Linked DNA regions of Homo sapiens: region 2 is linked to region 1. The links come from fine-mapping of genetic effects on gene expression. A gene starts in region 1. The other region holds a variant in brackets. All regions are shown on one strand. Distances are between the middles of the regions.

Region 1 (16,279 bases):
CATTGAGTATACCAAGGGACAACTGTGCAGGTGCAGCTTATGTGGTGAAAATGGGCCGAACAACTTCATATTTCTTCCATGTCAATAAAAGAGAAACATATTAAGCAGGACTGTGTTATTACAGGAATCACTGACCCTGGAGGATGTGGCTGTGGACTTCACCTGGGAGGAGTGGCAGTTCCTGAGCCCTGCTCAGAAGGACCTGTACCGGGATGTGATGTTGGAGAACTACAGCAACCTTGTGTCAGTGGGTGAGGACAGCTGCCCTGTGTCACTCAGAGGGTACCCAGTCAGTGGCCTTTGCTTTCTCAGCTTCTGGAAGCTTTGGTATGTCTGCTGTGCTCCCAAATGGCAGATCCTCAGGCCCGTCTCTGGTCCCACAGGAAGAGGCATAATCTTCCTTCGTCTTAGAAAAAAAGCCTTTAATTTGCTAACATGCAAATTATGCAGTCCCTAACATGTACCTTTCTCCTATCATCAGAGCCACGTGGTGCAATTCAGTGAGCCTAAGTCTTCTCCCATTTCCCACAAACAGGGTATCAAGCCGGCAAACCTGATGCCCTCACCAAGTTGGAACAAGGAGAACCACTATGGACACTAGAAGATGAAATCCACAGTCCAGCCCACCCAGGTAAGTGAGAGAGAACCAGCAAGAGGGGAAGGCAGCGGAAGTCACATTCTGGTCATTTAGAGAAGGCATGACAGTTGTGAAAGTGTCTAGGGAGACAGAAACAGCTGCCACATCTTCTTCTCCCCTAGGATACAAGAGCTCTTTTTCTTATAGGAATTCAGAGAAGCATACATACCCCTTTATCTCTTCTTGGAACTGATCCCTATTCATTTCTTCTTAGATGTTGAGTTGCTTCCCCTAAGTTCTTCTTGCTTGGATTTTCACATCTTCCCATTCTTCTTCATCACTTGTCAGAGGATCATTTTGTGTTTCTGAGGCAAAAACGACAAACTGTTTTTTTCTCTGTCACATAGTCACTCAACACAGCATTTATGCCACTGGATATATAGGGGTTGTTTTCTCACAGCCCAGGCAATTCTCCAGCAGACATCAGCTGGGTATCGTCTGTTTCAAATCAGCTCTGACCCTATCTACCTGATACGGCATCAGATCCCACCGGTTAAGGGCTCAGTCCAAGACTGTGTCCCACTTCAGATGCCAGTGGCAAGTCCCAGGTTGTCACCTCAGCTTCTGACCAACCAGCTGTAAAGTAGGGGTTCCCAAGACCCTCTCCTCAAGTTTGATTAATTTGCTAGAACAGCATTTATATGTATATGCGTGTGTGTATATATGTGTATGTGTGTGTGTATGTGTGTATATACATTTATATATATACTTTATATATTTATATGTATATATACATTTATATAAGAGAGAGAGGGAGAAAGAGTGCCATAAGCATTGTCTAGAGTTACTGATTCATCAAGTGAGATAAGAACTGAGGCATAGGAGGCCGGGCATGGTGGCTCACACCTGTAATCCCAGCACTTTGGGAGGCTGAGGCGGGCGGATCACAAAGTCAGGAGTTTGAGACCAGCTTTGCCAACATGGTGAAACCCCATCTCTACTAAAAATACAAAAATTAGCCGGGCGTGGTGACATGTGCCTGTAGTCCCAGCTACTCAGGAGGCTGAGGCAGGAGAATTACTTGAACCCAGGAGGCAGAGGTTGCAGTGAGCTGAGATCGCGCCATTTCACTCCAGCCTGGGTGACAGAGTGAGACTCTGTTTCAAAAAACAAAAAGAAACGAAAAACAAAAAAACAAAAAAACTGAGGCATCGGTATGTGATTATGGTTTGTTTTTCACATTCTGACACTATGTATTTTTCACCTTGAATTTTCTTTTCATGAAATGGTTTTTAATACACTACAATATAATAATATCTTCCATGTCTAAATTCCCATTCTACTTTGCATCCCAATCACACACAAGCCACTCCCATAGATACCACATCAGTGTGATTTGGTGGTGCTTGAGGTTCCTTTGCTACTCTGGAGTCAAGGGCCTGGTTTTCATTCTTCTTCATGTAAGATTGAAATACATCTTGGTCATTCATGCATTTCTTCATCGAAGGACAGATTAGCCAGGCTGAAGAGAGGTCATACTTTTCCATCTATTAAGCATTTCTTAAAGGCTAGATCTTTATTAAAGGAGTTTTCATGACACTGTCCATACCAAGGCCTCTTGCTCTGTGAGTCTGGTTTTGTTAGAATTGAGTTGGGGGCCTGGGCGTGTCTTTACATGAAGCTCTCTCGGGGGCTGTTTTTATGAGTTGATGAACTGTAGCCATAATACACAGTAGAAGAGACTGAATTTAGTGAGAAACAGAAATGTCTTTCTTGAGCAAAGATTTTGTTAGCAAAAATAGGGCAAATTTTTATGTAATATTTACAAATTAAACTTTTGAACGTGTGAAATGTTTTTGTTACAATTCAGGGCTATACAAAGTTAAAGTGAATAGTAAATACAGAAAGAATTGTAGGACTTTAGAAGAAATGTAACCTACAGTGGTCTAGACAAGATGGAGAAAGACAGACTGATAAAATATCTTATGCAAGAGACATAGCTAGGTATTGAATTAAGATGAAGACATATGACAAGAAGTTGTAGAACTGGAAATGCAAGGCCATGTGGGGACTGTCAGAAGATTAGCCTGAAGGCCGGGTGCGGTGGCTCATGCCTGTAATCCCAGCACTTTGGGAGGCCGAGTTGGGCAGATCACCTGAGGTCAGGAGTTTGAGACCAGTCTGGCCAATGTGGTGAAACCCTGTCTCTACATAAAATACAAAAAATTAGCCAGGCGTGGTGGCACGTGCCTGTCATCCCAGCTGCTCGGGAGACTGAGGCAGGAGAATTGCTTGAACCTGGGAGGCGGAGGTTGAAGTGAGCCAAGATCGTGCCACTGTACTCCAGCCTGGGTGACAGAGCAAGACTCCATCTCAAAAAAAAAGAAAAAAAAAAGATTAGCTTGAAACTGGTCACATGGAGGCCACAGTTAGAAGATATTTGCTGGGAAATGGTGAAGTGGGAACTTAAAGTGGATGCGTCATGGTAATGGTAAAACTTTTATTGTTCAGCTCCTGCTGTGAATTTTCTGTGCCAGTAATTCAGGGTAGTGGTGGAGGTAAAGTTTTGTATTTTTCTAGCTCTAGGTAGAGCTTACCTTTCACCTGGTGGCAGTACTATAGCAATCATACTGTATAGCTGATGTTCTAAGAAAAACTAAAAGTAAAGCTGCCTCAAGTCTTGATTCAGAAGTAGGGAGGTGGTCCTTGAGGGCTCCATTCACCGATGCCAACAGAGACATAAGTACAAAATTCAGAGAGTAGAGGCTGTTAGTGGCAAGGTGAGGAATTAGTATATTAGGGACAGCAAAGTGGAAAAAAAATCCAATATGACATCTGTGCAAGTAGGGCATGATGAAGAAGGTGACAGTTTCCATATTTGGTGCAGTGGCAGAGCTGTGTGGAGAGGACCACGTGTTCTGCTTGCATGTTCTGAAAGTCCATAGGGATCACCCTGTTTCTCTTTCTGTTGGAACATATGAGAATATATCATAGCCAGGTAGATACAAGGTGTTAACCAAAAAATTGAGGAGGCAAAGAGAAACTTTATATTCTAACAAAAGATGATTCGCAGATCTGAGTGGTGTGACTTTGAGGAAGTGGAAAAAACACACATCACTGAAGAGGGGAAACTTTTTTTTTTTTGCCTTGCAGGAGGCTTTTTGCCTTCTAGGATTTGCTTTGCATACCTATTCAGTGAGAGATGGGGAGTCTTATGAATATCTTTATGAGAATCAGCAAACATGTGCATAGTGAGCAAACATATATGTAACATATAATCCACTTTCATTTTGGAGTGGAGTTTTAACATTAAAATGAGGTGGAATTTGACTGTATGCTAGCAGGTCTTTTACAGGATATAAGAAAAGTCTGCACAGACTCCGGCAGCTGACCAAAACAGCTGGTGTTTATCAGGAGAAGGATATTGAGATCAGTCTCCTGTCCAATCATAGCTGCAGTTATGGCCTGTGGAATGCTGTTGGGGGTGAGGGGCATCAGTTAGTCAGCATCTGGTGGTCCGGGAGCTGCAATTGTTTCAATATTGCTTGTCCCAAGGCCAGTGTTTGTTTAGCTGCTACAGAAAAAGAAACAAAACAAAACAAAACAAAAAACACTCGTGGCAGTTAGAACATAGTTTATTCTTTAAATGTAGGGGGTGTGTGACTTAACCCTTACCTGTATGTCCTTAGACCTAGTTTATAGTTTGGTATCTTATTGCTACAAAGAGTCTGTTCCATCAGTCTTGTGATCTCTGTTTTAACAAAGGTTAGAGTATTGACTGCAGTTTTCCTGGAAATATGAGATTGGTGCTCTAGGAAAGTTAGCGTGATGATGGTCTACAGAATGGAGAAGGGCATATTTTAGCACCCAACAGTCTAATAGGATTAGGATGAAGTCAAAGGCTGTGTATCCAACATTCTAACTTGCCTTTCTGGGATATTTATTCTACTACCTATGTCTGCTGTTTCCCTACTCAGGATTATTCTTTTTTAAATTAAAAAAAAAGTTTTTGTAGAGACAGTCTCCCTATTGTAGCCCAGGCTGGTCTCAAACTCCTGGGCTCAAGTGATCTTCCCACCTCACCCTCCCAAAGTGCTGGGATTACAGGCATGAGCCACTGTGCCTGGCTGGCAAATTTTTTTTTTTTTTTTGAGATGGAGTCTTGCTCTGTTGGCAGACTGGAGTGCAGTGGAGCGATCTTGGCTTGCTACAACCTCTGTCTCCCAGGTTCAAGCGATTTTCCTGCCTCAACCTCCTGAGTAGCTGGGACTACAGGCACGTGCCACCACGCCCAGCCAATTTTTTTGTATTTTTAGTAGAGATGGGGTTTCACCATGTTGGCCAGGATGGTCTTGATCTCTTGACCTTGTGATCCACCCGCCTTGGCCTCTCAAAGTGCTGGGATTACAGGCATAAGCCACCGCACCCAGCTGGCAAATTTTATCTTATATGTATTTAACTACAATTCTTAAAAGTTTTTTTAACAGATAGGGAACACTTATACTTGGAATTCCTTCCATGTTGGTATTATAGGGGTTCCAGTAAAAAGCCAGCCAACCCCAAGGCATCTTTGAAGCAGTTTTATTCCGTGTGATGATCATGGAAGGATTTATTGTTCTCTCTCTTAGAAATTGAGAAAGCTGATGATCATCTGCAGCAGCCCTTGCAAAACCAAAAAATACTGAAGAGGACGGGACAACGCTATGAACACGGAAGAACTTTGAAATCATATTTAGGTTTAACCAACCAGAGCAGAAGATACAACAGAAAGGAGCCTGCTGAGTTTAATGGAGATGGAGCTTTTCTCCATGATAATCATGAACAAATGCCTACGGAAATTGAATTCCCTGAAAGTAGAAAACCCATCAGCACCAAGTCACAATTCCTTAAACATCAGCAAACACACAACATAGAGAAAGCCCATGAATGCACTGACTGTGGGAAAGCTTTCCTCAAGAAGTCTCAGCTCACTGAGCATAAGAGAATTCATACAGGAAAGAAACCCCACGTGTGTAGCTTGTGTGGGAAAGCCTTCTACAAGAAGTACAGGCTCACTGAACACGAGAGAGCTCACAGAGGAGAGAAACCCCACGGGTGTAGCTTGTGTGGGAAAGCCTTCTACAAGAGGTACAGGCTCACTGAACACGAGAGAGCTCACAAAGGAGAGAAACCATACGGGTGCAGTGAATGTGGGAAAGCCTTCCCCAGGAAATCTGAGCTTACTGAACATCAAAGGATTCACACGGGAATTAAGCCCCATCAATGCAGCGAATGTGGGAGAGCTTTCTCCAGAAAATCACTACTCGTTGTACATCAGCGAACTCATACAGGAGAGAAGCCTCATACATGCAGTGAATGTGGAAAAGGCTTCATTCAGAAGGGCAATCTCAACATACATCAACGAACTCACACTGGAGAGAAACCTTATGGATGCATTGACTGTGGCAAGGCCTTCAGCCAGAAGTCTTGCCTTGTAGCACATCAGAGATATCATACAGGAAAGACTCCCTTTGTATGTCCTGAATGTGGGCAACCCTGTTCACAGAAGTCAGGACTCATTAGACATCAGAAAATTCACTCAGGAGAGAAACCCTATAAATGCAGTGACTGTGGGAAAGCCTTCCTTACAAAGACAATGCTCATTGTACATCACAGAACTCACACGGGAGAGAGACCCTATGGCTGTGATGAGTGTGAGAAAGCTTACTTCTATATGTCTTGCCTTGTTAAACATAAGAGAATACACTCAAGGGAGAAACGGGGGGATTCAGTGAAGGTGGAAAATCCTTCCACAGCAAGTCACAGCTTAAGTCCTAGTGAACATGTGCAGGGGAAAAGCCCTGTTAATATGGTAACTGTGGCAATGGTGGCAGGGCAGTGTGAGTTTGCCCACATCCTGCATTCATGATAAACAGTTTGCTGTTTGATCATATAGCCTCCAGCGGAATGCTGAGTTTGTCATGTCCCATGGGCCTTTGGCTCCCTGCACTAATATGTATAGTAGGGTTTACAAGATATGAAATATATTTTACTTTTTTATATCTTATAAACCTCACTACCCCTCCCACAATATTGTTTTTCATTTACTATCTTGATCATAGAGTTTGGCTGGGGAGGGGGGCAGTTTTAGAGGCTTCCACTTGGTGTTCCTCAGAATGATATCTCTTACTCCGGGGGCCAAGGTAGGGGTTAGCTTTTGTTCTCTTTGTAGTTTAGATTGTATCTCTTGCCTTGTTCAAGTTCACAAATCTTTTTGTGTATACACATATGTACATGAAAATGATGTTCATGCTTTTTATTATTTTACCCTTCATTATTTCATTTTTTATAGTTCTCATAGCTATGTCTTTCAGTTCACTAATCTTTTTTCCACAGTGTTTAATCTGTCATTAATCCCATCCAAAGTATGTTTTCTCTCAGAAATTGTAATTTTTAACCTCTAATAATTTGACATGGGTTTTTCCCTGTTATATCTTTCATATCTTTATTTATCATGGTTTTACTTTTAACCTATTTATGCTTTCATATTTAAAGTGGGTGTTTAGTGGGCAACATACAGTTGGGCCTTCCTTTTTTATCCAGTTAACAATCTCTGTCTTTTTACTGGGGTATTTAGATCATTTACGTTCAATGTATTGATGTTTTTAGGTTTAAATTACTAACTTACTATTTGTTGTTTATTCTATGTCTTCTTTGTTCTCCTTTTCTTCTTTTTCTGCTTTCCCTTAGAGTAGCTGAGTGTGTTTATATTACATATTGTCTCCTTTGTTGGCTTATTAACTGTAAATCCTTGTCATTTGATTCCTTGAGATTTTATAGCATACATCATTGTGAGGGATTGCATATTTATGTCCTCTCCAAATTTACATGTTGAAGTCCTAATCCCTAAGGGATGGCATTAGGAAGTGTGACCTTTGGAAGGTAATTACATCTTGAAAGTGGAACCCTCATGATGAGATTATGTGTCTTATGAGACAACACAGAAGAGAGTTTGTTTTCTCTTTCTCTGCTCTTTGCCATGTGAAGACAGAATGAGATGACCATGCATAAACCAGGAAATGGACTCTCACTGGACACTAGACCTGCCAACACCTTGATTGTGTTTTAGAGTCCAGTTCTAGAGACTCCTCAGCCTCTGGAACGTGAGAAATGAATGTTTGTTAAGGCAGTCAGTCAGTCTATGGTGTATTTTTTCTAGTAGCCTGAACTGACTGAAAGAAAATCATGAACTTATCATTCTAACTTCAAGGACATTATATCACTTACTGTATAATAAAATAATCTTACAGTAGTATATCTCTATTTCCTGTGACCAGATCAGTGTCAGTGAAGAGATTGTCTTCTAGATGCTACTGGAATACATATTTGAGGTATGGGTAATCTTGATTTTACATGATAAATTCATTCTAGCATTCCAAACTCCATTTATCTTTGGGTACTTTATAATATATGAGGAAATTTCTGGCATTTAAACTTCATTTAGTGTAGGCAAATTTTGAGTCCAAGTTTCAGTCAACCAGCCAAGTCAACAGTTAGCACCACTCAATTTAGCTCACACACTGAAATTGCCAGTAGAATGTAATCTCCATGAATGAGAGTCTTTGTGCCTGAATTTCCAACTGTTGTATTCCCAGCACGCACAACAGTGTTTGACACATTAGGCATTTTATAAACATTCGCTGGATAAATGAGTGAATGATCAATCCCTTTAAAGGTTCTCTGAGGCTGGTTATAAAATTATAGGGAGCAGGTTTGGTGCTAGAATTCATCAGTTAATTGATCAGCTGAGTTTCAGTATTGAACAGAATCATCTCCCCTTCAGAGTTTTGATTTCAAGTTGCTCCCACCTTCCTGGATGTAAAGGCTTGTTCTGCCTTTGGCTTTTCCAGGGTGAGAGAGCCCTGTTTTCGTGTTGGTTCCCCACTTTGTCAACTGCTGATCAACTGTGTTCTCCATTCTCCACACCAATTATAACCAAAGCTTTAACACGCGGTTGTTTTATCCATTCTATGACTGACTCCTTCCTCTGAGGCTACATCTGATGTAGATGTAAAGATACTTCTTAGGCAGTTCTCAAAGGCTGCTTTCTCCAGCCAGATGCATCCTCAGGAGTAATAACCCCTCCGATTGTTGCTCAGGTCCCTCCCTCTTGAAATTCCTGTAAGACTGCCGCGCCACATGGTTTCTTTCCATTCTTCTTAGGATCAAAGTGCCTAAATGTCTGTGACCATCTCTACCCATCCTGTAGACAGATCAGGGCAGGCTTGAGCCTTTGAGAAACTAAGCAGTTTATGTAGCGCCCCTGGCTAATGTTGCAAAGCCAAGATCTAGCAGTTCACGTGGACTGGAAAAAGGGTGAAATGGGTCGTTTTCAATTGCTTTTCATCGTCAGAACCTACCTGTCTTAAGGCGCGAAAAGAGGGACTCCGCCTGCTCTACGGCAGTAGGGTTGAAAATGGCTGCTCCCAGCAAGCGTCCCCTGGGCGCAGACATATTGCATCATAAAGGGACGGCTGGTGCCGTATTCCGTGTCTCCGGAAAGACGCAGTATGGCCCTCGCCGGCCGCCATCCCCGAAACTTGCGAGTGTCGCGTCTGCAGTGTGTGGGGTTCGCGGGGCGGCGGGTAGAGGCGAGTGTTTAGAGACTTCGGGTCCCTGACTCGCCTCCAGCAGTGGAGACAGGTCATCGGTCTGGTCTGCGTGGGCTTCTGGGAATGTTTCAGGGGCAGGGAGAGCGCGCTTTTTTTTTTCTGTTGTTCGCTAGCGCGTGAGGTCCGTGTTGCGGGGAGCTCTCGGGGAGTCCTCGCTCGGAGTTCGTTTCGCAGTCGTGTTGGAGTTCCCAGAGTCTGGGAGCCCATGGTCTCCGCATTGGAACCAGTGCTTGGGAGGTCTTCGTTGCACAGTAGCGCTAGGGCGTCGTGGTGGGGAAGCGAATCGTGTCAGTGTTGGAGACTGCTCTGGGCAGTTCGTGTTCATTGCTTATCACATGCGTACTTAAAAAGGGGTCTGCTGGTCCCCTTGCTTCCCTGCTGCTGTATATTCTGTAGAAAATGGGTTTTCAGGTTCATTGCGACCCAAGTAATAACATCCCCATCATTTTAAATACTCCTCCAGAAAATAACTCTGGTTTAGTGTATTTCATGTTTAATGTTGGGATCAGGTGTCTAGGTATTGGTATAATTTTATTCGTCTTTAATAACATCTTGTCAACTTCGTATTCCCATATTACATGCTCTTTGAGAGTTTTTTAAATTGCTGCAGTTTCATCAAGTGGTTGCTTTAATTTGGGTAGAATTGATGTAGATCTAGATACAACACTTTCAGGAACATGTGATGGATTTCTATTAACCCAATATTTTTATTTGTTTGACTATCTGTAGTGTTTTTCCATACGTATCTTGGACATTTCTGGTTATGCTTATTTCTACATAGTTAATACTTTTTGTTGTAAATCGTGACTTTTTTTTTGCATAAGACCCCTCCCCCTTTCCTTTTTTGTTCCTAATTTTACTTAGTTGACAAGAACAGAAGTTAAAAATATATATGTTTATTCTGTCACTTCATTGTACTCATGTCATTACATATAACTTATAAATTGACGTCTTTTTTCTAGTTGAGCATTTTTGTCATCTGCAAATAATTTTAGCCAGGTGGCAAGTGTATGGACTGTGGAGTAAGAAGTACCTGCCTCTGCCTCTGACTTGGGTACGTTAATCTCTGAGTCAGTTTCCTTATTTGTGGAAAAAAGCTGTCATAGTTTCTTTTTCATGGAATCATTATGAAGATTAAGTGAGCAAATGTTCTTTAAGTATGTTCAAAGTGTAGTACTAGGTACGTAGTATGGTCTGAATAAATAATTACTGTGATTTATCAAGTTTTTATTTCTCTTTCCTAAGGGCTTTTGACCATTACAATTATTTTCATTTATTTTTTTCTCTTTAAAATTTTCTTTGATTTGTGTTGCTCTATTTCCCAATTTCATGTATTCCTGAGGGAATAAACCATACTTGTCAATAATGGTTTGTTCTTTTAATATGAGACTGGATTTTATTTGCTAAAATTTTATTTAATATTTTTGCATCAAAAAATGAAAAGATATCTTGGATTAGCTTCGGAATAATCCATAATCCATTGCTGGAGAGGGACTGAATGGTGGTATAGATAAAACAAAATTAGATGTGAGTTCGTCATTCTTGAAGTCACATGATGAATATGTGGAATTTGAGTATACTGTTCTTTTGCTTGAAATTTTTCATAGTAGAAAGTTAAAAAATTTTTTTGCCTATACATTTATAAGAGAAATTGGTCTCTTAAGTTTTTTTCAAGTGATTATACTTGAAAATCACCAGGTTAAAAAAATAGAATAATGTAGCATCCCAGAAGCCCTCATCTTCTCTCTCCTCTCCAAAGGTAATTATTATCTTAAAAACATCATAGATGTGCTTGGTTGTCATCTTTATATAAATGAAATCCTAAGGTACACATTCTTTTGTGGCTGGCTTCTTTTGCTTAATATTTTTGTTGTGAAAATCATCTAAGTTGCTGCATATAGCAGTAGCTCGTTTCTTTTTCATTACTGTGTAGTATTCCATTGATGATTATACCCCATATTATCCATTCCACTATCAAGAGACATTGTTATGGCTTATGGGAGTTATGAGTATTGTTGATATGAACGTTTTTCTACATGTCTTTTGGTGCATAAAAGTTCTATTGAGGGCTGGGCATGAGAGCTCACGCCTGTAATCCCAGCACTTTGGGAGGCTGAGGCGGATAGATCACCTGAGATCAGGAGTTCGAGACATCTGGCCAACATGATGAAACCCCATCCCTACTAAATACAAAAATTAGCAGGGCGTGGTAGCGGGTGTCTGTAATCCCAGCTACTCAGGAGGATGAGACAGGAGAATCACTTGAACCCAGGAGACAGAAGTTGCAGTGAGCTGGGATCATGCCATTGCACTCCAGCCTAGGCAACAAGAATGAAACTCCATCTCAAAAAAAAGTCAATAGAGCATATACTTAGTGTGTTAAGTATAGAGGAATGGAGTATGCTAGACACAAGGAGAAACCGCAAATGCCCAATCATAATGGGAAATTCTTAACATACTTCTCTCAGTAACTGAGAGAACAGGCAGACAAAAAGCTAAAAGGGTATAGATTAACCATTGCTGGCAAACTTTCTGTAAAGGTGCAGACAGATGACAAATATTTTAGTCTCTGCCGGCTAAATGGTCTTGTCTGCATCTACTAGGTTCTGCAATTATAGAATGAAAGTAGCTGTACAGAATGTGTAAACAAATGGGTGTGGCTGTGTTCTGATAAAACATTATTTACAAAAACATTCAGCTAACCCACAATAGTCCCAACCCCTGAAAGGTTAGAATGACATACCTAATTAACAAACTTGACCAATATAAAACACTGCACTCAATAATTTTCCTCAGATGCACATAGGACATTTATAAAAAGTCACCGTATGGTTGGCCATCAGGCAAGTCTAAATACATTTCAAATGATTAAAACCATATAGAATATTTTCTCTAACTATAGTGGAATTAAGCTATAAATCAATATCAAAATGATTTATTCACCATAGAATAGTCATGTGACTTTTTGGAACTATCAATTCAGAACATGCTGTTTTCTTGTCAGAATGATTGTTAATTATGCCATACGCTTCTAAATAATCTGAGTTCAAAAAATCACAGTGGAAATATTTTCAATTGCATTTTAATAAGAATTCTACATGTAAACCCTTGTTGAATTTAACCTAAGCAGTCAGTGGAGGAAATTTATAACCTTGAATGCAAGTATTAGAAAAGAAGGAAGGATGAAAATCAATGGAAAAGCACCTATCTCTATAATTCTTTTTTTTTTTATTCTATTGATTTGTGTTTGGAAATGCTGGTTTTATATAATTGTTAGAGAGGCTTCACTTTTTCTGTGATTGATGAATGTTACATAATATTGGAGTCATCTCTGTACTGTAAAGATTAGATAGAACTCATCAGGCTCTGATGACTCTAACTTTTTTTCATGGAAATTGAGTATAATATTTACCCATAACTTAGCTTCAATGGTTATCAATTCATATTCATCTGTCATATCAGTCATATTTATCTGTGCCTCCACTTTTGTTTTAGTCTGGAGACTTTCATAGCAAATCCAAGGCTTCATGCCTTGAAACTTGTACGTATCCCAGTATGAATCTCTAACCAGTAAGGTCATTAAAAAAATTTATAACCACTAGACCATTTCCTTTTTGTTTTTTCTTTTACAGACAGGATCTTGCTATGTTGCCCAGGCTGGTCTTGAACTCCTGGGCTCAAGCAGTCCTTCTGCCTCGGCTTCCCAAAGTGCTAGGATTACGGGTGTGAGCCACTTCACCCATCCTAGACCATTTTCAGTGTATCCAAGTTAATAATAATTTCTTTCCTTATCTTTTTGGGTGAGTGGACTCTCACTCTGTCACCGAGGCCGGACTGCAGTGGCGTTATCTTGGCTCACTGCAATTCCCACTTCCCAGGTTGAAGCAGTTCTCCTGCCTCAGCCTCCCGAGTAGCTGGGCTTACAGGCATCTGCCACCACACCAGGCTAATTTTTGTATTTTTTTGTAGAGATGGGGTTTCTTCCTGTTGGCCAGGCTGGTCTTGAACTCTTGACCTCAAGTGATCTGCCCATGTCGGCCTCCCAAAGTACTGGGGTTACAGGTGTGAGCCACTGTGCCCAGCCTATTTCTTTAGTTCATTGAATAGTTAGTCCACATTCAGTTTTTTTCTGATCATCTCATCATTGTCTTTTAACATTGGATTGTTTGAATCATGATCCAAATGATGTGGGTGCATTCGATTTGCTTGTTGTATCTCTTAGATCTCTTTAATTCTATAACAGCTCCCCCTTTTTTTTTCTTTGTTTTTTTTGCCCTCATGCCTCTTCATATGTTGCAGTAGGAAGTACACAGCACCATCCATGAAGGATTCTTACCTAAAAAAATTGAACATGGGACTAATCAAACCTCTAAGTTGAACTACTCACTTAATTAAAAGGAAAAACTGGGAGTTGGGTAGGTAGAGAACAACAAGTTAAACTATACCATGAGGCTGGGAGCAGTCGCTCATGCCTGTAATCCTAGCACTTTGGGAGGCTGAGGTGGGAGGATTGCTTGAGGCCAAGAGTTCAAGACCAACCTGGCCAACATAGCGAGACCTTGTCTCTATAAAAAAAAAAAATTTGGCCAGGCACAGTAGCTCACACCTGTAATCCCAGCACTTTGGGAGGCTGAGGCAGGTGGATCACAAGGTCAGGAGTTCAAGACCAGCCTGGCAAAGATGGTGAAGCCTCGTCTTTACTACAAATACAAAAATTAGCCGGGCGTGGTGGTGGGCACCTGTAATCCCAACTACTCAGGAGGCTGAGGCAGAGAATTGCTTGAACCCGGGAGGTGGAGGTTGCAGTGAGCTGAGATCGCGCTACTGCACTCTAGCCTGGCGACAGATTGAGACTCCTTCTCAAAAAAAAAAAAAAAAAAATTTTTTTTAAAAAGCCCACACAAAATGATACCCTGATACAGCAGTCAGCCATATCCAAAGGTAGGACATCATATGGGAGAAATCACCTGTTTCCTTCCTCCCTGCTTCATTCCTCCCAAAAGCAGATAAGGCTGAGGGCTTGTAATGGTTTGGAAGCATCCTAACTTTTATTTGAAGTGGAAGCCTTTTTTTTGCCTTTTGTTTTTTTTGAGACAGGATCTTGCTGTGTTGCCCAGGTTGGGGTGCAGTGATGCGGTCATAAACTCAATTCAGCCTGGAACTCCTGGGCTCAAGCGATCCTCCTGCCTCACCGTCCTAAGTACCTGGGACTACATGCATGCACCACCATGCCTGGCAAATTTTTAATTTTTTTTTGTAGAGACAAGGTCTTGGTATGTTGCCCAGGCTGGTTTTGAACTCCTGGCCTCAAGGAATTCTCCTGCCTTCACCTCCAGAATTGCTGCAATTACAGGCCTGAGCCAACACAGCAGACCCTAGTTTTTTTTTTTTTTTTATTGGATACTGTTGGCTGCCAATCTGACAACCAAGCCCCCTTTCTTAAGAAAATTCCTCTTTAATTTAGGTAGTGTCCTCTGGACATTTGACCTGAACCTCAGTTCAGTAGGAAATCCAGATTATCCTTACCAGTCAGGGTGGTATCATTGCCCTTCTCGGTTACATTGCCATGTTCTCCGCGTGAGTATTTGGTGCAATTCTGATGTATTATGTATGAGGGAAAGCCTGCCATGAGCTTCTGGGAATGGTTGGATCCTGGATTTTTCAACCCTGGAGATCTCAGCTCCAACCCATTCATGCGTAATGGCCTTTTCTACCTCTTAGCTATCCATATGGATTTCTGCATTTGGGTTGGGTACCACTGTTTTTGGACTGGTCCTGTAGGGAGGCTAGACTGAAGGGCTGGGGCTGGGATGAAGCGGTCTCAGGATTGAAGGTAGAGGAGGTTTGCATCTTGACCAGTGCGTTTACCAGTGGGTCAGAAAATGGCTTGGAGATCAGCTCTCTGGGTGTAAAGGATACAGGCTTGCTAGAGAGTCTTGAGAATGACTTGCTGGGATGACAGCAAAATTCAAGTTGTTCTCACAGTGTGGGTGTTCTCAGAGTGTGAGTTTCTAGAGTGGTTCTTGGGGAGACTGATCTCTGAACTGCTGCTTCTGGGGCAAAGATGGGACCGCCTTTGCTTTCCTGTCTGTGTGGAAGGAGCAGGCTGAGCATCCACACTGAATATTGCATTAGGAGATCACAGGCCCTTGTTTGTGTAGCTGTGACTATGTGGCCACCCCGCAGTGTAAAGTGCTGGGAAGTAAAGTTCTAAAAGTGGGTAGGAAAGAGAACAAATTTGCACTGTAAGGCTGTTGTAGGAGGGAAGTATCACAAGGGAGAGACCCCAGATGTAGATTCAAGTTCCCATGCTACTAATGAGGAAGAATGTTAACCTGCACAACACACGTTGTCTCAGCAAGCCTCAGCTTACTCATGTTTAGGATGGAAATAATAATGAGTACCTTATAAAGTAGTATCGAGGGTTTAGTAAGACAGTGCTTATGGTTTGTATGATTAGTAAGACAGTGCAATAAACCAAAAATTTAGGAGCATGTGGCTGCCGGTGGTGATTTTAAGTCAGTTTCTTGAGCCACCACTTCTTTTATGTTTTTATTCTTAGAGACAGAGTCTTGCCATGTGTCCAGGCTGGTCTTGAACTCTGGAGCTCAGGTGAGATCCACCCATCTCAGCCTCTACAATAGCTGGAACTCTAGGGCACATGCCACCATGTCTGGCTTTACCACTTCCTTCATTGTCTTACCTAAAACTGATATATGTGAGAACTTGGCAGTGGACAAGACCATAGGTGGTTTTTGTTTACTTTCTCCTGTTTCACATCCACTCTATTTCTGACATAACCAAAAAAAAAGGCATTCCTCTTGCACATTCCATATCTTCCTCTGGATCACTGCCCCATGATGTAATGGCTTCCAGGGTGTTAAGGAGACAGATGAAATATTGGAACCTGATGTTAATGTGAGTCCAGATGGCAATTGGAGACTTGTGATCCTAGGAGCATGTCTTCTTATCATTGAATTTGGTCTTGAATCCACAGGTTCTGGCCTATAGGAACAAGACATTTTCAGTAATGGAAGAAGGAGCTTCCAGG
Region 2 (16,279 bases), 92 kb after region 1:
CGGCAATTGCGCTGTCATTTTAATCACACTCGTATTTGTGTAACCAACTTAGAATATAACAAAAGTGAGTATCCGTGGGACCTTGTGAAAGCCCATTTGCAAGGAGCTTTCACATCCAACATCACCTTTGATATTAGTGAATTACAAAACAAAATTCTTGATTTAAATAGGCACACTCAAGAATTTCAGCCTTCTTTAGAAGACTGGACTGAATTCCAGGAAGGCCTGGAGAGCCTCAACCCTTGGACCTATCTAAAGTACCACAGTAACATCTTATATGTAGTTCTTGGAGTAATGTTGTTTTGTCTCTGTCTTCTGTTTATAGTCTGTAAAATCGGATGGACCGCCAATCGGAGAATGAGAGCTGCCCAGCCTGGTCTTACATTCTTTCAATTAATTCATAAACAGGGGGATATGCAGGGAGCCGAAGGCCCATGGGACGTGACCAACTCAGCATTCCACTGGAGGCTATATGATCAAACAGCAAACTGTTTATCATGAATACAGGATGTGAGCAAACTCACGACTGTGCCTGCCGCCAGAAGGTTTGCTGAGGGCAATCGCTTCCTGACGCCAAGCTCTTTGAAGTTATCTACTGGAACATCTAGAGAATGCAGTCTTGCAAGCCTACTCTGGACCAACCAACTGACCTCTTCTTCCACCCCCCTTCTCACTATCGCTTTTCTCTAATAAATACAGAGGGCCGTGTAAAGCTCAGGGCCTTGTCCACTAGAGGCAAGGTGCCCCCGGACCCCTTCTTCCAAATATACTCTTTTGTCTCTTGTCTTTTATTCCTGCATTCACCCCCCTTTGTTCAGTCCACCAGGGATCATGGCAGGTTACATAGTGGCGCCCCGAACAGCCACAGAATCGGGTGCTCGATAGATCCTCATATATAACTATAATTTGAGCCCCAATGTAAAGTCCATAAATTTTTGTCAATTTGAGCATTTTTGCTGTTGTTGAAGTTAAGTTAGTACCTATGTTGTAAAGGCACAAAACCAAATCAGTGCCTTTTTATCCTTTTGTTACATAATTTTTTTGGTATAAAAATTAATATATGAATTTTGAATTCCCAATCAAATCAAATTGTAAAACTTTGTTTTGATGCGGTTATATATTAAATGTACATAATTCACCTATTTGTCCTATGTTTACATTAAAATATTATATACATATATACATATGATGTATTTAATTTCCTTTTTATCACCCTCCCATTAGAAGTTTGTTCATAAATCAGTAAGTATTCCAGGGCTAGGATTACGTTTCCTAGATCTGGATTCTGCCCAGTACTTAAATTTAAAGTTCCTCTTTTTTTTTTCTTGTACTCGTGACTGTGGTGTAGAACTGGAAACTGTGTCAAGGGTGACTGAGCCCTGAGCCTCGTATGAGAAAATTAAGCTTGTATTTAGACTGGATGCCGAGGCAACAGACCCTTATAAGCATTCACTGCAGTGAAGAAGGGTGATTAATGTTGGTTAGGCAGCTGTCAGTCTTGGCCAGAATTATGCCTTCAGGTACTCAAGATCCCTTTACACTCTTCTTCCAAATAGAAGAAGTAGAGCCATCCTTCCCAAGGATGAGATCCCCAACGTTTTATGTTGAAGTTTCTTTGTGATAAGTGTCCCATAACTTAAAAGAATACTTAGCTTCAAAGCCCCAATATACCACGATGCAATGAGAATTGGGAATCCACAATGGAAACTCCTAATGAGGAAAAGAAAAAAGGGAGATGTAGCGGACACTGTTCTACTGCAATTAACCAAGGCCAGTGGGAAGGAAAGGTAAGAATCCCCTGTCCTGGCAGTAGAGGGAGTCTATTAATTAGCCCATCTGGAAGCCCTGGCTCTCCTATCTAGAGGTCTCACGCTGTCCTTCGTGGCTCCTGACTTTCTGTCTTGCATTTTTTTCATTGTTCCTCATTTTCTATGGCCACAACTTAGTTGGGCATTAAAGAATATACATTTTTTTTTTTTTTTTGGAAATTGAAAGCATTTATAGGAGTCAAAAGTGTGAATGAAATGGTCAAACTGCTCTGCCTTGGAAATGCACAGAACTCTAGAGAAGACGAGAAGAATGAGTAAAGCAGTGGAGTGAGAGAGGACATTGATAACAGGATTCCTTGGTATTCATGTTGAGTGGTGTCTTTTGCCAGTGCATCAGGAAAGTATGTTACACAATACAAAATTGACAATTTCTGAGTGTTTTTGTGGAGAAAGCAAGGTAAAGGGCTGAGTTATGAGTTTATTTATTTAAATACAAAGTCATTAGGCAGTTGTTAGTGAGAGTACTGTATTGAAGTGGAAACTCAAAATTTAAGGTGTTCATGAAAATGGAAGCCACCTGGGAATTTATAAATATTGCGCACATGAGGATGAGAATTTACTAGACATGACTTGGTTCACGTTATTTTAATTTTAGTTAAATTAATTTAATTTAATAAAATAATTTGTAACAGAGATAATTTTAATTAGACATCAAATGTTTCTCACTTAAATATCTAGGTGACACTATTTATTGATTCATTAATTCAGTATTTATTGAGTGCCTACCACATGTCAGACACTATTTTACACATAGAGGGTGAGGATTCATCTGTAAGCAATACAGACCACAATTCCTGCCCTCAGACAGCTTACATTCTTATTATATGAAAGGAACCATATGAAGTTTGTATACAGTTGTATACAATAAAATAATCTGTAACGATGTAAATGAAAGAATAAAAATAATCATGTTAATATTGGCAGATATTACATTTGAAAACATTTAACATCCATTCATAATTTAAGCAATAGAAGAAGAGAACTCTTAAAAAGTAAGAATAGAAGACACCTTCAACAGTCTGATTAAAAAGAGAAAGATACAAAAAGGTGACAGCAAACATTACACTTAAGGGTAAAGTAATTAAGTTTTCCCTTTAATATATACTATCTCATCCAAGCCTTACAAATCCCCACCACTCTTTCTGTTTTCTTGTAGTTTTTTTCCACTTCCACTTACCCCAGGGTACAGGCTGAGGTCCAGAAATTAGAAATGACACCCACAATAGCCTCATTTTCTATTTCTTACTCTCAAATTGGGGGGCATGGAAGTATTTTTTCCTGATTAAAAACTTCATCCACTCATCCTTGAATGGCTTAATATGACTCAAGGGTAGATAAAGCTGGGACTGGCATGAGGGTAGGATGAGAAAGGGCTAAAAAATATCCCTGACCCCCTCCTCTCATTGCCTGTACCTCTACCTCTGCAGGAGGTGAAGCAGTGTTGGTAGCTCTGTCACTGGTCTGGGCTGAAGAGCTGAGGCAGCCCTCAACAGCCCGTCTGCTGTAGTCATCCATCGTAAGGCATTTTTACGAATTTTTTTTTTTTCAGATTTGGGAACAGGAAGAACTTTTGGGTTGCTAAATGGAGATGTGGTGTCGATAATCACGCTTTTATTAATTCGGTTTTATATAATAAATTTTAATCCTTGAAGGTGCTGTTTCAACTTCTATTGGGCCGTAATAAATTATCTTAACTGGGGGACTAAGGGGCCTCATTTGATCAAGCCAATTTGTAAGTGCCAAAAGCTTACTTTAATTTTAATTTGTTATTAATTGTGTCACAGAATCTATGTCCAACATAGAATATTTTAGAGCAATGACTGTATGACTGGGAAATTTAGGCGACGCTACAGATAAAGTGAGGTCTACTCATTTTTCAAAATTTTAGTTAGCTTCTCAAGATTATGGGAGTAGAGTAAGTAAATTTAATGAGATCCCTATGTATAACTATAATTTGAATCCCACTATGAAGTCCATAAATTTTGTCAATTCGTGCAGCTGGAGTGCAGTAGCACAATCTCGGCTCACTGCAACCTCCACCTCCCAGGTTCAAGCAATTGTCCTGCCTCAGCCTCCTGAGTAGCTGGGATTACAGGCACCCAGCATCACGCCCGGTTAATTTCTGTACTTTTAGTAGAGATGGGGTTTCACCATGTTGGCCAGGCTGATCTCGAACTCTTGACCTCAGGTGATCTGCCCACTTCGGCCTCCTAAAGTGCTGGGATTACGGGCGTGAGCCACCGCGTCCGGCCGCTAATGTTAGAAGTTAAGTTAGAACCTATATTGTAGAGGAACAAAAGCCAATCAGTGTCCTTTTTGTCTTTTTTTACATAAACTTTTACTACAAAAATTAATATATGGATTTTGAATTTCCAGTCAAACCAAATTGTAAAACTGTTTCAATTTGGTTCTATATTATGTATACATAATTTATCTATTATATATTTACATTAAAATATATGCATATATAATGGATTTAATTTCCTTTTGTCACCCCCATATCTAGAAGTTTCTTCATAAATTAATAAATAATCTAGGGCCAGCATTATGTTTGCTAGACCTGGTTTTGGCTCAATACTTAAAGTTAAAAGTTTCTGTCTTTTTTCTTGGACTTGTAACTGCCTAGAGCGTCAGTCTCTCTGTTATTTTTTTCTATTTTCTTTTTTCCCCCATCAGTCTTTTAGCCACTTGAAGCCAAAATTCTTAGTTTCTGTCCTAGTTGATAAGAGTAAAAGGGGAAGGAGGAAAAGGGCCCGGTGCCACTGGACAGTCACCTCTCTCTGGGAAGGACCCATTACAAGACAATGAGTCCCTCTCCTCTCTTTTTTTTCTATTTCACATAAAATCTTTAAAGTGACTTGCATTTCTAGGCATCTAATATTTATATACTTTTTATTTCCTAACCTCACTCTCTGGATGTTTACTGGACAAGATCCCAGTGGTATGGAGTAGCACTCTGCTGTTTTCACTTTACACATTGTTACCAAAAAAGAAAAAAAAATGGTATTGAGAGTTAGTCCAAACTGCACCACTTTGTAAGCCCCCCACCATTTTGCAGACTTTGGTCAAAGTGAAACATTCCATGGGGTTTCGGGCCATGAGAAACATCCTGCCCAACCACCTGACCACAAGGCACACGAACATCCTTATCACACTCTGCCGGGCAAAGGCCCAAGGAACATCACTATCACATTCTGCAGGAACAAGTGCCAAACCGCCTCATCATGGGAACATGTTATCAACATTTTCCCAGGCAACGGGCCATGCTCCACTTCCAGACCTCTCCCACCCAGGCCTGTAATTGCCCCAGCCTGTAAGCAGTGGTGGGCACTGGCACCTCTGCAGGTTTATACTGGACATAAATGCCTGCATTTGCTGTTGAGACACTCTGTCTTTGTGTGTCTTTCTTTAATCTCACTTTCTCTTCAAAACCGAACAATGAGCTCCACTTGCACTGGCCTTGTAGGCAGCCGCTTTTCTTTCCAGGGTGACCCGATCGACCTCTGAGGGGCTGGGAGAACGAGAAGTGATAGCACCAAGGAATGCAGCAACCAAGGAGGCACTGGCCTCAGCAGCACCGGCTCTTGCAAGGTGCCCTGGGGACTCAGGTGCAGTTGCCGTGTCACAGGTTAGAGTTAGGCGACTGGACCCTTTCACCCAGCTCCCCTTCACTGACACACTGAAGCCAGCATTCTGTCATCCTCTTCAACTTCACTATGGTGGAATCGCTGCTCCCCAGGAGCCTGGTGGCCCATGGCCCTATCATCAGCAAGATGGAGGTAGAGCTGAGGATCGAGCCATGGGCTACCGGGTGGCCAGCTCAGCATCCTGGCCAGCTCTCTCTGGCTGGAGGCCAGTACTTTGCTACTTAGAGCCAATACAGGCCGGACCACTACCGAGGCCCTAGGTCACCAGAGAAGCATGTATGGCTCAAGGGGCAACATGCCCTCCAGTAGTGGCCCCCTGTCAGGGGCCTGATCCCAGAAAGGGTTTCTGATGTCCCACAGGGAAACACCCTCATTACAATAGGATCTGCCCTCCTGCAGCTGCTGGGGAGCCTGGAGCCTCAAAGAGCCGTCCACGGTCACTGGAATTTCTGGAGAATCTCCAAGTTAACTGCTGAGGACAGCAGTACTAAGCTGCACGAAGCAGCAAAATGGAGCACCAGCAAGCAGTAGTGCCGTCTGGGCCAGACCGACTGGGCTGTCTGATGCAGGAAGTGCGTGAGTCATCCACACACACAGACATTGGGATTGTGTCCAAGACACAGCCAAAAGCCTGCCTGCTATGCCAGTAGTATTAAATGAAGCTCTTCAAGTTTCTCTATCAACTCAGCTGCTAGTGACCATCCTCAGCAGCCACCAGAGGTCAGGACAAAAGAACATCAAGAGGGGATCCAACTGCCCAGGTCGCTTTCGGGCAGCCTCACATCGTGGGTTGGATTGTGGGTGCGGCTTCAATGAGGCGACGACAGTGTTAAAGTTCGAGAGGTTTTAGTATTCACAGACCCCGGGAGGTACATGAGACATCTGGAGGCCACACTCAGAGGAGCAAGAGGACAGGCAGAAAGAGAGCTGACGGGGGTGGCAACTGGCAGTGGGAGTGGGGTGTGGCGCACTTCAAGTTCAGGGGCAAATGTCCGAATGGTTCCCTTTTTTCCTCTGTCACCCAGCTGGACTGCAGCGGTGTGATCTCGGCTCACTGCAACCTTCGCCTCCTGGGTTCAAGTAATTCTTCTGCCTCAGCCTCCCCAGTAGCTGGGCACCACCACCACGCCCGGCTAATTTTTTGTATTTTTAGTAGAGATGGGGTTTCACCATGTTGGCCAGGCTGTCTCGAACTCCTCGGCCTCCCAAAGTGCTGGGATTACAGGTGTGAGCCACCACGCCCAGCCAAGCTACAGCAATTTTCTATGATCATGAAAATCTGAGAATCTTCCCACCCTGGGCTATTTAGCCTCTTTAAGAATGATAGCAATTATGTAGCACTTGTTTACATCTAATACTCATAATAACACTGTGAGGCAGCCATCATCATCCCTTTTTTACTAGGGAGAATCCATGGCCCAGGGACTCCTGTAGTTTTTTCAGCATCATACCTAGCCAGTCAGTGGAGACAGGAAGATTTGTAAACCAGACCGAACAGAGCCACTACCTTTGCACGCTCAAGTGCTGCCATTGAAAGGCGTTCTTCCAAAATTACCAGGATAGGGTCCTGCCCTCGTATAATAAATTTTTTCTCCTATTTCTTTTACTCATTTCCTTCTTTTTTCCTATCATTATCAGTCACTTTCACTGAGGTCTTCCCAGGGACATTGTTTAGTGTAGCTCAGGGTTTCTCAGCTTTGACACCAATGGCATTTTGGGCTGGTTAATTCTTTGTTGTGGTGGACTGTTCTGTACACAGTAGGATGTTTAGCGGCACCCCTGGCCGCTATCCAGAGATGCCAGTAGCAACTCCCCATTCAGGAGTGACAACCAAAAGACATTGTCAAAGATCCCCTGGGAGGCAAAATACCTCCCACCCCCTCCCCCTGCCAGTTGGGTGTCACTGTAACAGTGTAAAGAGTACCAGGCTTTGGAGTCAGTTAGATCTCTACTCTGATCTTATCTCTGACACCTCGATGGTGTAAATTCTTGATCAGTGACATCTCTTTGAGCCCCCATTTTCCCCTCTGCAGAACTGAAATGGTTTTTTGATAAAGACTGATTTTCAGGGGAGGATTAAATAGAATAGACATGGACTGGAGGCTGAGGTGGGGGAATCGCTTGAACCCAGGAGGCAGAGGTTGCAGTGAGCTGAGATTGCACCACTACACTCCAGCTTGGCAACAGAGCGAGACTCCGTCTCAAAAAAAAAAAAAAAAAAAAAAAGAATAGACATGGAAATCATCTAGGATAGGTCGGTAAATCTGTAACAAATTAGAACTCTTAGCCCTCACCAGGCTGTGTGTTGTGTTGTGGGGTACAATCCCGAACCCTGCACTATGAAGCTCAGGGTCAGGACAAGAACGATGCTTATAGCAATAGTAGCTTCTACTTATGAACATTATCCACACACCAAGAGCTTCTCCCTTAACCCTCACAACTCCTCTCATAGGCTCTGTGGATGGGATGTGTTAATATGTGTAAGCACTCAACACACCCTGAGACACGGTGAATATTGATTAATGTTAGTTTTAATTTGTATAACCATTGTACAGACGAGAAAGTTAAGACTTAGATTGAGGTGGGATGTGGTGAGGGATAAAAGATCATTTTTTATACCAAAAAAATTGAAAATTGTATTTCTACTAGATCATTCTATCACATAATCACGCCCCCTCTCTTTCAAGAGAAACCTCCTTTGAAGCATATTTCTTTCCAGCTTCAACCCTATCTAGCCAAATGACCTCTCTGTAAGGTCTGTCTGTAAGACAGAATTTCCAGCCAAACATCCA[AAG/G]AGAATGTCTCTAATTCTTCCTTTTCCTTCTTCGCCTCAGCTGTTCTCCTTAATCCACTCCACATTGACTTCTGTCCTTAGCACTCCACCTAATGCATTTTCCCAAGGATGCTTATGACCCCCAGGCTGCCAAATCCAGTGAGTCCTTCTCAGTTTTTAAGACCTGATATCCCAATGACACAGGACCCATTGGATCACTTTCTCCCTTTTCAAACACATTTTTCCTATGCCATGAGATATATCCAAGAGATATGTGCACACAATACACTCTTGGTCGTCTCTACAGCTCGATTCTCTTCCTCTTTTTAGTCCAATTTACGGTGTTTTCTATTCTAAATTTGACTCTAAATGTTGGGGTATCTCACATTCTATAAATGATATCATCCAGTCTCTGGGATTAAACCATTATGCTGTCTTTTCATCTAAATTATCAGCCGTGGCCTCTCCCTGGCACTCAAGTCTGATAAAACCTCTCCCCGTGGGAGTCCCATAGACTCCAAACCTCACATGGTTTTACCAAACTGTTGATGTTCTCTGCCTCCCAGACCTGCCACTCTTCCAATATTCTGTATCTATTTGGAGATTAAATATTCAGTTGTTAAAGCTCCAGATCTAGAACTCACCTTTCATTTCTCTTTTCCTCACCACCCAACGCCATCCACGTCTTACTCATTCTATCTACAGAACATGCTGAATGCACAGCCAGAGCCATTGCCATCTCCACGACCGGTGTCCATGGCCCTGTCAGGCTTGGATATTTGCACAAGCCTTGCAAATAGCTTTTTCCTGGTCCTGCTGCCCCCTCCCCTAAGATCCATTCTCCAGACAGAAACCAAATGAGCTTTAAAAAGGTCCAATAAGATGGTGATGTTATTCGCAATACCTTCCGATGGCTTCCAGACTTCTAAGTTACCCTTATCTTAGGTTCCCTTATCCTAGGTTCCCTTATCCACTGCCACATGTGCCCTGTGCATCCCTCAGACCTCATCTCTGCACTCTCATCAGACACACTGGGCTCCACCCACTGGGCTCTAATTCCTTGAACTTGCAGCTCTTTGTCATCTCAGGGCTTCTGCTTTCTCTATTCCTTCTGCCTACCGTGCTCTTCGTCTTGAGCTTCCTGCACCTGGCTCATCCTGAATATTCATATTTCAGGTCAAATATTATTTCAGAGAGATCCCACCTCACCCACTCTGCAAAGCAGAATGCTCAGGTACAGCCTATCTCACCAGATACTTTTCTCCTTTATTTGTTTGTTCATTTATCTTCTCTCTTAAATACCCTCCACACTAGTACGTAAGCTCCACAGGACTATCAAGATCCTTCAATGCTACATCTCTACAATGCTACATGTCCAGTAGAAATATAATGTGTTAACTTTAGCTACATATGGGACTCAAAATTTTTTTGTAGCCACTGTTTTTAAAAAAGTAAAACACCTTTGGGGAAATTATTTTAGTAATAAATTTTATTTAATTACATATATGATAAAGAATTGGCCAGTCACATTGGCTCACGCCTGTAATCCCAGCACTTTGGGAGGCCGAGGTGGGCAGATCACGAGGTCAGGAGTTGAAGACCAGCCTGGCCAACATATTGAAACCCCGTCTCTACTAAAAATACAAAAAATTAGCCAGGCGTGGTGGCAGGTGCCTGTAATCCCAGCTACTCAGGAGGCTGAGGCAGGAGAATCGCTTGAACCTGGGAGGCAGAGGTTGCAGTGGGCTGAGATTGTGCCACTGCACTCCAGCCTGGGTGACAGCGCAAGACTCCATCAAAAAAAAAAAAAAAAAAAAAAAAAAAAAGAATGTTACTGGAACATGTAACCAAATTAAACACTGTTAATGAAATAGTTAACATTGTTTTCATACTAACGAAGTGGATTCTTCACTGGACTACGCTACTCCAGAGTTAGAAGGGCTCTGTCATATAGCAGGCATTTCAACAATAACTTTAAAATTTTCAGACCCCAACTTACCACCAGCTTAGATCCTTTTCCTGTGCCCAGTTCCTGGATTCCTGTGGAGCAACTCAGGCTCTAAGTACTTGTAAAAAGATGAAGTTATATGTTTGGTTTTAAGATCTTAATTGGCTTTGGTTATAAAGATGGAATCAGACAGCCTGTCATGCTATAAAACAAAATGAGTGTTTTGATAGTTAGAGCCAAGGAAGTTGGTTTTACAGGGATAGGAGGGCTAAAGAAAGCAGAAACAGAGAACAAAAACCTGATTGGTCATCTGGATGTTGCATTTTTTTTGTGCAGCAGGAATAGAGAGACAGCAATAAGGAACAACTGATTGATTGAAGTCAAGTTACCACAGATTGCTTTTTTTTTTTTTTTGTAAAGATGAAAGCAGACAGAACTTCATGTTCATGCCCACTGAAACTGGCCTGTTTTAGGAATTTGTCCATTTTCTCTCTCTCCTGATTTCTCAAAAGTTCAGATACATTAGTTTTGGTTTGGTGATGTGGAGTTTTAGTATGACTGACTCCATTTGGTTTGCTTTGTCGAACCTAGTACAATAGGTCAGTCCAAACCACTTACTTGCTGTTTTTATAGAACAGGCTTCAGCAGAGACTTAGTTGAAGGACACGGGGACAATGGAGCTGGAATCAATCCAGTGACACAAACTCAGGGTTTCTTACCATTCCCAGAAGACACCTTGGAGATGTTCTCAGACGATTTATCTTGGAAACTTATGTGTCTGAATGTTCCTTCACCTCTAGCCTTCTGTGGGAGACTGGAGTTCATCCTTCCAAATATCAAAGGCCAAGAAATCTGAGAGTCCAGGCCCTTTCTTTTCAGAGATTCAGGAAAATGAAAGAAACAATTACCAAGGTGAGAAGAATGAGAGGAAAAACAATAAAAAAACAAAGATGCACGGTGAAACAAAAACTCGATTCTCTACTTTCACAATCCTTCTGACCAAATATACTTTTTCTCTACACCAAGAAATTCTCCAATTCTCTGGGGACACCACCTGGGCCACCTGCAATTAAAAATTCGGTTATGATGCTGTCTACCTGGATTCAGCTCAGATCCGAAAAGCTAAAGGGCTCACTCCCACAAACTGTTCTCAGATCAGATCAGACATCTGTTGCAAGTCCCAGGTGGCTACTTGTACTTCTGACTGACAGGCTATAAATTGGGTGTTCCAATGACACCAATAAATTGCTAGAATGGCACACAGAACTCAGGAAAGCACTTTGTTTGCATCTGTTGCTTTATATAAGGAATATACCTCAGGAATAGTCCATTGGAAAGAGGCATATGGCAGGTATATGGCAGGGAAGGGGTTGGGTGGTGCATGGAGCTTCCATGCTCTCTTCAGGCAGCCACTCTCCCAGCACTCCTGAGTGTTCACCAATGTGGAAGCTCATCAAATCTCATTGTTCAAGAGTTTTTATGGAACTCAATCTCCAGTCCCTGCCTCCCCTTCCTGGAGATCAGTAGGTGGGGCTGACAGCTCCAACCCTCTAATCCCTTGGTCTTTCTGGTGACCAGTCCCATCCTAAGGCCATGATCTCCTTAGCATAAACTCAGCTATGATCAAAAGGGGCTGTTTATGAATAACAAATAATACTCCTATCACTCAGGGAATTCCAAGGGTTTTAAGAGCCCTGTGCCAGAAATCTGTGACAAAATCAAATATGCTTTGAGGTATTTCATACCTCAGAGTTACAAAGAGAAGCAGTAACTAGGAGCATGTAGAGAGGTAAGGAAGGTAAATGAGAGACACTGTACACTCCACACCATTGCCGAGATTAACCCCCTAACCTTCTGCCCCTAGGGAGATGCTCTATGGACTACTGATCTAAGGAGATGGGCTCTTTCTGAGTTTTTAAACACCATCAGAATGTTGTTCTCAAGCCCAAGGAATAGAACCATGAAAAACAGTGGAGAGCCACAAAACAAGAGTCAACTATTTTCTATTTTCTCTCTGATTCACTGGATGTTTTCAGTGATAAGGTAGAGTAAACCAATGAAGCACATAAGCCATGGAGAAATTTATTATTAAAAAAAGTTTTGGAAGGGGATAGATCTGGAGTTTGAACAAAAATTGAGTTTAATGTCACCCTTCCACTCCATCATCATATTGGTTTTCTTCTAGGGCTTTCTTGAAAGTGACCACAGAATGGCTGCCACTGTTCTGGACATTGCATCAACAGGCCCTCCCGAGCCAGAATCATGAGACAGGCAGAAAATGTGACTCATTCACATGCCTCTTCCATTTTATTACAGAGGGAAACCTTGTCCAGAGTCTCTTCAGGACCTCTCCTTGTCTTTCATTGCCAGAGCATGCCATCTCTAGACCAATCAATGGCCAAGAAATAACAAAAATACCGATACATAAAAATAAAGGTCAGGGACAGTGGCTCACGCCTGTAATGCCAGAATTTGGGGAGGCCAAGACAGGAAGATTGCTTGAGCTCAGGAGTTCAAGACCAGCCTGGGCAACATAGTGAGACCCCATCTCTAAAACCAAAAAAATATTAGCTGGGTGTGGTGGTGTGGACCTGTAGTTCCAGCTACTCAGGAGGTGAAGTGGGAGGACTGCTTTGTCAGGGAAGTTGAGGCTGCAGTGAGCCATGATGATGCCACTGCCCTCGAGCCTGGGCAATGAGCAATACCTTACCTCAAAAAAAAAAAAAAAAAAAAAAAAGACAAGTTGCTCATATTGGCTTAGGCCAATCATGATTGCTTTCCTAGGACAGTGGCACATTGCTACCTGCCACCTGATTAAAATGGAATTTACTTATCAGTATAATAAAGGGTGGTGGGTATTGCATGAGGCCTCTGAAGAGGTGCTCCCTTGCTGGCTCCTGCAGACATAGAGCTTAAACAGACATGTGCCTTACCCTGGAGATGCCGACTACCCAGGTAAAGAGGTGACAGCGTCACTCTACTGTGACTAAGCATAGTCTTATGCACCCTTTGTGCACAATGGTGTCCTCTGCCATTTCCCTAAGCAGTCACAGTAGAGTGGGGGTATATAGTGATAGACAGATGCCTGGTTCATTATGAGATTTCCCAAAAGGAACAACTAACTGAGACTGACAGGGTCCAGGGTCACTTCCAAGTGCAATGCAGATAACATCCGGGATGAATCTTAAAGACTCAGATAAAGAAGCAAAAAAAAATACATTCCAGGCAGAGGAGAGTGAAAGCACGCAGGAAAGGGTCAAAAAATAGCAGGTTACCTGCGGTTATTGGAGCATAGATGGTGAGGCAGACAGCAATAAACACTGAGTGTGTAGCAAGTGGCAGAAGCCATCTGTTGGAGGGTCCTGAATGCTACAAGAAGGACTTGGAATTTCTTCATAATAACATGAATAACCATTTAAGCAGGACAGTGACTTGTCAGGTGTGTGCTTCTGAAAAATATTGTTCTGTAGTCCTGCAAAGGGATGCCTTTGAGAATGTTTCTAATTGGAGACAGAGATATTAGAATGGAGAATGTTGCCAGAAATCAAGGTAAGGTTCTTGAAGAGCTACCCAGGGCAGGAATAGTGTGATCAAGAAGAGGCGTAGCTTAGAGACAGATTGTCCAGGCTGAGTAGACCAGCCTTGGAGACTGGATGGCTGTGGGGAATGGGGAAGAATGAGTGCTCTTTATAAATTCCACATTCCTAAAGTTACTATTGCTGCATCTGCTACAGTCTGAATGTTTGTTTCTCCCCTCCCCAGATTTGTATGGGAAATCCTAACCCCCTAGGTTATGGTATTAAAAGGCGGGACCATAGGGAGGAGATTAGAGCGTGATGGTTGCACCCTCATAAATAGGATTAGTGCCTTTGTAAGAAAGCCTTGAGGGAGCTTGTCTGTCTTCCACCATGTGAGGACATATGGAAGGCGCTGTCTATGAGTAATGGGCCCTCATCAGACATGGAATCTGTTGGCATCCTAACCTTGGTTTTTCTTTTTTTATTCTTTCCTTTTTTTTTTTGAGAGAAAGTCTTGCTTTGTCACCCAGGCTGGAGTGCAGCAGTGCAATCTCGTCTCACTGCAACCTCCACCTCCTGAGTTCAAGGGATTCTCGTGCCTCAGCCTCTCAAGCAGCTGGGATTACAGGAATGTGCCACCATGCCTGGCTAATTTTTTTTTTTTTTTCTGTTAAAGATGGGATTTTGCCATGTTGCCCAGGCTGTTCTCAAACTCCTGGCCTCAAGCGATCCCAAACTGCTGAGATTATGGTGGCATGAGCCACTGTGCCCAGCCTTAATGTTGGTTTTTCTATCCTCCAGTACTGTGAGTAATAAATTTATGTGGATCATAACTTACTCTAATAGATTTTGTTATAGCAGGTCAAATGGGCTAAAAGACTAATTTGTACCAAGAAGTAGAGGTATTATAATTAGAAATACCTAAAAATGTGGAAATGGCTTTGGAACTGGGTAATGTGAGAGGCTGGAAGAGTTTGTGAGTGCTAGAAAAAACTCTACATTTCCATGAATGTAACGTTGAGGGTGATTCTGCTACAGGCTCAGAAGAAGATTGCAATAATGATCAGAGTATTGGTAGAAATGTAGAAGTAGGTCATTCTGATGAGATCTCAGATGAAAATGAGAAATATTATTGGAAACTGTAGGAAAGGACAGCCTCATTATAAAGTGGCAAAGAACTTGGCTGAATTGTGTCTGTGTCCTTGTGCTTTGTGGAAGGTAGAACTTCTGAGTGATGGAATAAGATGTTTGGTGGAAGTTACATCTAAGCAAAGCATTGAGGGTGTGGCATGGCTTCTCTTGATTGCTTATAGTAAAATGCAGGAAAAGAGTTACATAAAAAATGGCAATTATAGGCCAGGCACGGTGGCTCACTCCTGTAATCCCAGCACTTTGGGAGACCGAGGCAGGTGGATCATGAGGTCAGGAGATCGAGACCAGCCTGGCCAACATAGTGAAACTCTGTCTCTACTAAAAATACAAAAATGAGCCGGGTGTGGTGGTGAACACCTGTAATCCCAGCTACTCAGAGGCTGAGGCAAGAGAATTGCTTGAACCTGGGAGGTAGAGTTTGCAGTGGGCCGAGATCGCGCCACTGCGCACCCCAGCCTGGGTGATAGAGTAAGACTCCATCTCAAAAAAAAAAAAAAAAAAAAGGCAATTATAATCAAAAAGGAAGTAGAACCTAAAGATTTGGAAAATTCTCAGCCTGTAAAAAGTGCAAAAGTATGTTCAGGGGAGAACACCAATGGTGTGGGTAAGTGAACATTTGATACGGAGATTAGCATGGATAGAAGCCAGATAGTATTCATCAAGACAATGGAAGAATGACTCTGAAGGCATCTCACAGATCTTCACATCTTCCCTGCCCATCACAGGCACAGAATGCAAACAATTTCAAGGTTTTGGCGGCAAACAATTTCAAGATTGTATTCCCCATATTCCAGTATAGCACTCCTTGGCCTTCCAAGCTTTGGCTCAAGCACGCCAGACTGCGGCTCAGGCCACTTCTCTGGATGGCACAGGCTGTAAGCCAAGGCTACATCTGTGTGGTGTCATCTCCACCAGGGCACAGAGTGCATGAGCTGCGGGGTTGTGGCTGCCTCCCCTTAGATTTTGAAGGAAGGTGCTACCTGGAGTCGCAGGCATGCAACTCAGGGAGAGGGCTGTCTCCAGAGACTCTCTGTCTCTCCACAGAGAGTCCCTCCCCCAATATGATGGCATTAAGAGAATGCCCAGTACAGCAGCGGGGATGGGGCCACCACAGAGTGCCTCCACTAGGGCAATGTCCAGTGGAACCCTGGGGGTGAGGCTGCCCCTGAGACCTCAGAACAGTGTAGCCACCTGTGTGCAATACCACCCTTGGGGAGCTACAGCACCTGACTTCAGCCCCTGAGAGCTGCTGCATCAGCTACACCCAGCAAAGCCATGATGGTGGTTCTGCCCAGAGCTGTTGTGGCCCAACCCCAGCTCCAATGTGTCCAAAAAGCAGAACATGGAGTCAAAGAACATTATACTGAGGCCTTAAAATGTATTTGCCACATTGTTTTGGACTTCCTCAGGAT

Evidence for each region.
Region 2: its variant is fine-mapped to the expression of ZNF649-AS1 in lung (TOPMed, PIP 0.98).

Annotation. Positions count from the first base shown.
Region 1 is chr19:51,880,824-51,897,102 of GRCh38, reverse strand. It overlaps ZNF649-AS1 (ZNF649 antisense RNA 1), which reads right to left and starts at 9,078. Exons shown (of 3, transcript NR_110733.1): 1 at 8,977-9,078; 2 at 807-942. ZNF577 (zinc finger protein 577) reads left to right here and starts at 9,152. Exons shown (of 6, transcript NM_001370449.1): 1 at 9,152-10,282; 2 at 16,226-16,279. It overlaps ZNF649 (zinc finger protein 649), which reads left to right. Exons shown (of 5, transcript NM_023074.4): 3 at 125-251; 4 at 536-631; 5 at 5,206-7,868. The coding sequence ends at 6,485. RefSeq lists an enhancer at 9,028-9,879.
Region 2 is chr19:51,789,301-51,805,579 of GRCh38, reverse strand. FPR3 (formyl peptide receptor 3) reads right to left here and starts at 10,423. Exons shown (of 2, transcript NM_002030.5): 1 at 10,249-10,423. It also overlaps a transcript of ZNF577 not described here. The variant AAG/G (reference allele first, on the strand shown) is at 8,269.